Linked DNA regions of Homo sapiens. The protein of the gene in region 1 purifies or fractionates together with the protein of each later gene. This does not show direct contact. Each region holds a gene or a part of one and is shown in the gene's direction. Other genes may lie near its edges.

What was found. Proteins that work in one complex are often made in the same cells at the same time.
Region 2: the proteins of COLQ (region 1) and P3H1 purify together in Homo sapiens (affinity purification with mass spectrometry; 2 studies listed by BioGRID and IntAct, with this or other methods). This does not show direct contact.

Annotation. Positions count from the first base shown.
Region 1 is NC_000003.12:15,473,207-15,476,706, reverse strand, and holds part of COLQ (acetylcholinesterase collagenic tail peptide isoform I precursor), read left to right. Parts: intron 1-1,219; coding exon 1,220-1,282; intron 1,283-1,755; coding exon 1,756-1,782; intron 1,783-2,434; coding exon 2,435-2,479; intron 2,480-2,671; coding exon 2,672-2,707; intron 2,708-3,500. UniProt on the Homo sapiens protein: Anchors the catalytic subunits of asymmetric AChE to the synaptic basal lamina.
Region 2 is NC_000001.11:42,757,029-42,760,528, reverse strand, and holds part of P3H1 (prolyl 3-hydroxylase 1 isoform 1 precursor), read left to right. Parts: intron 1-1,138; coding exon 1,139-1,328; intron 1,329-1,545; coding exon 1,546-1,677; intron 1,678-2,606; coding exon 2,607-2,746; intron 2,747-3,500. UniProt on the Homo sapiens protein: Basement membrane-associated chondroitin sulfate proteoglycan (CSPG). Has prolyl 3-hydroxylase activity catalyzing the post-translational formation of 3-hydroxyproline in -Xaa-Pro-Gly- sequences in collagens, especially types IV and V.

The DNA of each region.
Region 1 (3,500 bases):
AGGGATTGTCGAGTGCTGATGAAATCTCCTTCCTCAGTCAGGCTATGGAAAGCAAGCACATCCCCATCTGTGCCTCTGTTTTTCCCACTAGTAGTCATAGACTAGAGGGTTCAGAGGCGTGACTCAGAGTTTTATCTGCAGAAGTCAGAGCTGGGCAGGTGGATCTCACCATCTGCTCTGATTTGTTTACTGGCTATATTATAGCAGTGGAAAACTGTGTGTCCAGTCCTCTTAGGAAAAGTCCCAAAAGGATATTTTAAAAATCCTCTGCATACAGCTGAGCTGTCCTGCACAGCAGCCAGTAGCCACATGTGACCCTCAAGCCCGTGGAATGTTGCTAGTGCTACTGAGGAACTGAATTTTTAAATTTTAACTATTTGAATTAACCTTTACTAAATTCAGTTATTTGAAAATGTTAAAGTATGTTTGGAGCAACTTGAATGCATGAATCTGCTTTTTCAACTATAAATTTTATGATCTCTAAGTACAGATTAAATATTTTGGATGAAAATTTAGCACCTGAATGGAGATGTGTAAATGTAAATTACATAGCAGATTTCAAGTACTTATTATGAAAAGCACAATGTAAAATATCTCAATAATTTTTGTATAGATTACAAGTTGGGATGATTAATTAGATTAAAGGAGATCTATTAAAATTAACTTCATTCGTTTAGTTTTACTTTAAGGTGACTTCTTTTAAAAGTTTAAAATTAAGTATGTGGCTCACCTTATATTTCTATTGGTTAGTGCTGGTATAGAGTATTTTTAGTACAGAGGGTGGGTGCTGGAAGTCCCAACCACAAATCATTCTGAGGACCCTTCCTATGCAAAGAGCAAAGCAGGCAATGTTTTTTGCGTGTATTGACACCTTGTTTTCTGGGGCCCCAGTTCCGTCATGCCCCCTCCACTACTCTCTCACTATCCTCGCTAGGAAAATACCAAGTATTACCATATACAACATCTTAGTGAGCAGTTGGTGTGGGGATCTGCTTCACTTTGGGCGTTTTCATTTTATATTTAATCTTAAACACAAGAATGAAATGTGGAGTACGGAGTTTTGGGACCTCAGGAGGGAGAAAGTGGGTGCATCTGGGGTCCTCAGATTTACAAGCCAGCCCTGATATCCCCAGTTCCTTCCCAATCTTGCCTGTGACTTCCTGGTTCAGTTTCTCTAAAAAATATCACCGTGGGTCTTTTCTTCTTCTAATTCCCACAGGGTGAAAAAGGTGACCTGGGTATGATGGGCTTGCCAGGGTCAAGAGGACCAATGGGCTCCAAGGTCAGTGTGGGGTCCAAATGGACGTTCCCAGATCTCTGTCAGGCTCTGGAGCAGCTGCTGTCTACAAACATAGGGACTGGGTGGGGCTGCAGTCCCGGACTAGGGAATGTCGCGGATATTGGAGAGCCTGCCTTTACCAGCCCTTTGGAGAACATCATGCCCTGGGATGCAGGGGCATAGGGATGCCATTCCTGCTGTTCTCTTGGGCAGGAAGAACCAAGCTTCTGGACATCAGAGCAGATGGAAACCTTTGATCAGGACTTTGCAGAGTGATAAAAGCAATGTTCCTTTTAGGCCTGGTATAACCACAACCCTCTGGGACATCTTTGTGTTTGGTGCTGCAACCCCACTAAAACTCACAGTGCAATGTGGAGACATACCTTACCACCACATTCAGGGATTCCTTCTATTCTTCCACCAAACTCAGAAGTCCTACAGGGCTGATTGTAAATGTACCTTCTGCTTTCTTTTAGGGCTACCCTGGATCCAGAGGGGAAAAGGTTAGTGCTTTTCTTGGATGGTGTCCTAGAGCCTGGTCTGGGCTACTGGCTCTGGAATCAGAGACATGCAGAGAATGGGTCCAGGTCTCTCTTTAGTCTGCAACTGAAGCCACCATCCCTAGCTATTCCCCACCCTTTGTCAGTGGACTGAGAGAGAAGTGAGGGACCTCCTGAAGCAGGGCAAGCTGGTAAGAGAAGGGCTCCCCATAGAGGCAGAGGCCCCTCGTGTGGAGCACATAAGCAAATGAAGGCCGTGCCAGGTAGAGAATAAGCACAGTTTGCACAGAGTGCTGGAGGAAATTGGTGATGCATGTCTTTAGGCCAAGCTTTCACCACCACACAACCTTCTGACCTGGCCAAAAACCAAATCAAAACAGCATCAACCTGTGGACAAATTTCCTACAGGATGAGAGAGGATTTGGGGCCCAGAATTTTCCGTGAGTTGTCCTTTATGAATGCAAGAGGTCTTTGGGGTTCAACAAGAAGTAGATCACAAAGCATTCCTTCCCTGGAGAAGTCACCTGACATATCTGAGCCTATTTCTTCACTTGTAAAATGAGGGTTTTGGTTTAGGGAGCTTTTCAGTTTGAAATGCTTGAATTTCCCTCCCAGGATATTAACTCATTGACTTTCTCCTATGGTTTCTTCCTAGGGATCCAGAGGTGAAAAGGGTGACCTGGGTCCCAAAGGAGAAAAGGTAATGGAGAAAACCTTTCCATAGAAATGATAAATGTCAGTGCAAGTAGCAGCCCCCACCCACCCCCATCCGTGGACTGATGATGGACTGATGGACAGGCCTCCATCTTGAAAATGACCAACAAAGCCTGTCCACAGCCATTTCAGGTGTTATTTCAGAGGTGATCACAATTATTTGTTGCTCTTTTCACAGGGTTTCCCAGGATTTCCTGGAATGTTGGGGCAGAAAGTAAGTAACCTTGAGGTAGTGAAAATAGGCCTCAATAAAAATATCAGGTCCTCCAAGCACAACAAAAAGAACTCTGCCTCCTTGTCTATCAGGCAGGGATGGTGGGTTTAACCATGGAAACTTCTATTTTGGGACGGGAAGCAAGTTGCTTTTCACCCTGGGGAGAGGGTGGCAGGATGGTCTGGAGCCTCCCTCTAGCTCAATGGGAAGGAAAGGACAACCCATCTGGGTTTTGGGTTTTTGTTTGTTTGTTTGTTTTTTTGCTTTTTTGCTTTTCCTACCTCTTAGAGGGCTGTGGTCCTATTCAAATGCAGAAACCTTTCTCACAGGGGACTCAGATCTGAGCCACAACGGTCAAAGCCCCTGTCAGCACACAGGCCTCAGTGTAAGGCACAGGTGTCTTTAGCTTAAGGTCACTGTGCCTTATTGCAGTCCTTCTTCAAGGGCGGTGCACATACTGCCAGAAGGACACAAAAGTATTTGAACTGAAGACTGCTAACATTGTTTAAGAGTTAAATTTTGTATTTAAATAGTTAAATATTGGCCAGGCATGGTGCCTCATGCCTGTAATCCCAGCACTTTGGGAGGCCGAGGTGGGCAGATGGCTTGAACCCAGGAGTTCGAGACTAGCCTGGGCAACATGGTGAAATCCCATTTCTACCAAGAAAAATATACAAAACATTAGCTGGGCATGGTAGTTCGCACCTGTAGTGCCAGATACTTAGGAAGGTGAGGCGGGAGGGTGGCCTGAGCCCAGGAGTCAAAGCTGCGGTAAGCCATGATTGCACCACTG
Region 2 (3,500 bases), on another chromosome or scaffold:
CTAAAAATACAAAAATTAACCAGGTGTGGTGGTGTATGTCTGTAATCCCAGCTTCTCAGGAGGCTGAGGCGCTAGAATCACTTGAACCCAGGAGGTGGAGGTTACAGTGAGCTGAGATCATGCCACTGCCCTCCAGCCTGGGCTGTCTGTCTCAAAAAAAAACTCTGTCTCAAAACAAAACAAAACAAAAAGTAAGTTGTGTTTATTTGAAAACTGTTAGCCCTACAAAAAAGTGCAAGAACCTAGGCCAGGCACGGTGGCTCATGCCTGTAATCCCAGCACTTCGGGAGGCCGAGGCGGGCAGATCACCTGAGGTCAGCAGTTCAAGACCAGCCAGACCAACATGACAAAACCCCATCTCTACTAAAAACACAAAATTAGCCAGGCGTGGTGGCGCATACCTGTAATCCCAGCTACTCTGGAGGCTGAGGCAGGAGAATTGCTTGAACCCTGGAGGCGGATGTTGCAGTGAGCCAAGATCGCACTATTGCACTCTAGCCTGGGCAACAAGAGTGAAACTCCGACTCAAAAAAAAAAAAAAAAAAAAGTGCAAGAATCTGTCACTAATGGGGGGGGAAGAAAAGTACAAGAAAATCATAATGAACTCCTAGATATCTTTCATCTAGATTAAGAGTTAAATGTTTTTTGGCCAGGCACAGTGGCTCACACCTGTAATCCCAGCACTTTAGGAGGCCGAGTTGGGAGGATTGCTTGAGGTTAGGAGTTGGAGACCAGCCTGGCCAACATGGTGAAACCCCGTCTTTACTAAAATACAAAAATTAGCTGGGCACAATGTAATCCCAGCTACTAGGGAGGCTGAGGCAAGAGAATCACTTGAACCCAGGAGGTGGAGGTTGCAGTGAGCTGAGATTGTGCCACTGCAGTCCAGCCTGGGCAACAGAGTGAGACTCTGTCTCAAAAAAAGAAAAAAAGAGCTAAATGTTTTTAAATTTCCAGAGCTAAATATTTTGTAAAGACCATTTACAAAAGGCCTTCATTTTATAGTGGTACCCAGGTCACCCCTTTCCATCCATAACCTGAGGAACAGGAAATTAGGACCCCTGTGAAGGTGGCTGAGGGCAAGGAGAGAGGGTTCCTCCTCTGTGGCCTGCATTTGAGTGCTCCTTCTTCCCAGTAGCAAGAATTTCGACTGGGAGTGCGACTCTACTCAGAGGAACAGCCACAGGAAGCTGTGCCCCACCTAGAGGCGGCGCTGCAAGAATACTTTGTGGCCTATGAGGAGTGCCGTGCCCTCTGCGAAGGGCCCTATGACTACGATGGCTACAACTACCTTGAGTACAACGCTGACCTCTTCCAGGCCATCACAGGTGCGTGCAGTTCAGAGCCAGACCTTCAGCCAGGCCTCCTGGGACTCTAAGGTCACCATCTGATAATATAAATGGGGACTCTTCACCCTCATTCCTCAATTTATTAAATCTGAGAAGCTGATGAAAAATTGCTTCCATTTGAATTTGTTCATCTTAACCAGAATTTGAGTTCTAAAGAGTGACCTCATAGTTATTCCTTCTGTTTGATTCCTTTCAGATCATTACATCCAGGTCCTCAACTGTAAGCAGAACTGTGTCACGGAGCTTGCTTCCCACCCAAGTCGAGAGAAGCCCTTTGAAGACTTCCTCCCATCGCATTATAATTATCTGCAGTTTGCCTACTATAACAGTAAGGCCTACTTTCCTTCCTCTTTCTCTGCTGGCTAACTAAGAAGCTAAAGGCAAGGTGGGCAGGGATTACAGCCACTTACTTCCTCAAGGTGTTTGGCTTATTTCAGTAGCTATGGGAGGCACCATGCCAAGTGATCCCTGGGTAGTTTGTTATAAACAACTGGCCTAGGAAGCCAATACCAGCAACCCAAAAAGCTGGGGGAGGGAGACTTAGGACCTCATCTCTTGTCCCTTCTATAACTTGTAATCTATTTTTGCTTTTGAATTAAAGTTAATAGCAAAATAAGGGTATGCCACAGTTTAAACTAGCTCAGAGGACATTTGCTAGCCCTCTCCCTGGTATAGCACTGATGCTTTTGTGGGGCTGCCAATTAATACCCAGAAAACCAACTCTTTGCAGAGTCCCTACTGTGTGCTAAGCATTACAAACATATTGATGAGTGTACAATATTTACAGTTGAGTTGAGATGACTAACAAATATCAACAAGAACTATTTTGCCAAAGAGACAATCTGCTATTGTAATCTTCCTTGTCTTCTGAAAATCTATAGAAAAAAGAAGGTAGGAAGACAGGGAAATTGATCTAATGATTGAGTGTATTGAGGCAAAATATTAAGGAGTATTGGAATTATTTGTGAATCTTAAAAGATGTGGGCATGCAGAGAATTCTGATTCTTTTCTGTTTCATTGTTAGGCAGCCCTGAGGACATTGACCACCTCACCTTAAAATTAATCACACATTCTATGTGTATTACTTAACTCCTGCCCCTGAAATCAGGCCATCATGTTAAGTAGCAGGCACCAGCTTGTCATGCTGCCATTGCCTCAAGCTTTGTGGAGACTGAACACTAAGTGGTCCCTGGTGCTAGGATTTTATCCTTTCCTTTTGACTCTTTCCTCTCAGCCATTCTTCTTTCCACTTTGCAGTTGGGAATTATACACAGGCTGTTGAATGTGCCAAGACCTATCTTCTCTTCTTCCCCAATGACGAGGTGATGAACCAAAATTTGGCCTATTATGCAGCTATGCTTGGAGAAGAACACACCAGATCCATCGGCCCCCGTGAGGTGAGAGACTTCCTTCTGTTATGACAGCTGCCAGCTGAACTCAGACCTGAGGGCGGAAGAGTGGGGTAGCAGAGGGGAGTAGGCGCTGTGCGTGCAGGGCAGGGGCCAGATGTCAGTGTTGGGGCCAGATGTGAGTTCAGTCACTCGGCTTGTTATTCAGAGGAGAAGGGAGCACAGGGAGGGAGTGTGGGGAGTACACAGGAGCCTCAATTAGCGTTATCTGGGCCCAGAAGTCTATTCTCTGAGTCCCGCAGAACTGCGCGGTGAGCATATTCTTTCCCCTCTTGGCACCCCTAACTTGGACACTCGATATTATTTGGCCAAGAGCTATCATTTTTCACTTAATACTGGTTGTTTTTTTTCTGCTCACCTGTTTTCTGTCTCCATTTTCTTTCCCATCTCTTCTTCTTCCTGCCATTGTTTGTTCTCTCCCATCTTTCAGCATTTTCCCTGTCTCTCTCCAAAACCAGGAGAAATATCTGTATAACACAAAGACTGCTGCGCTGAAAGGAGACACCCAGGCTCTTCTTCCGAGCTCTGGAGTCTGAGAGCCTCCAGTAGAAACAGCCTCTTGCTGCCCCTCCTGTGTGGGTTGTCATTGTAGTTGTCCTCTTTAGCCACTAGATGGTGACCATCTGGCTTTAAGATGGCACTTCCGGTCTCTTTTGTCTTGTTTGGTTAATACCTTTTCCCTGCCTTCCTTATGGCCATTAAGGGGAGTCTGAGGGGAGTGAGGGGAAATAAACCCACGTGG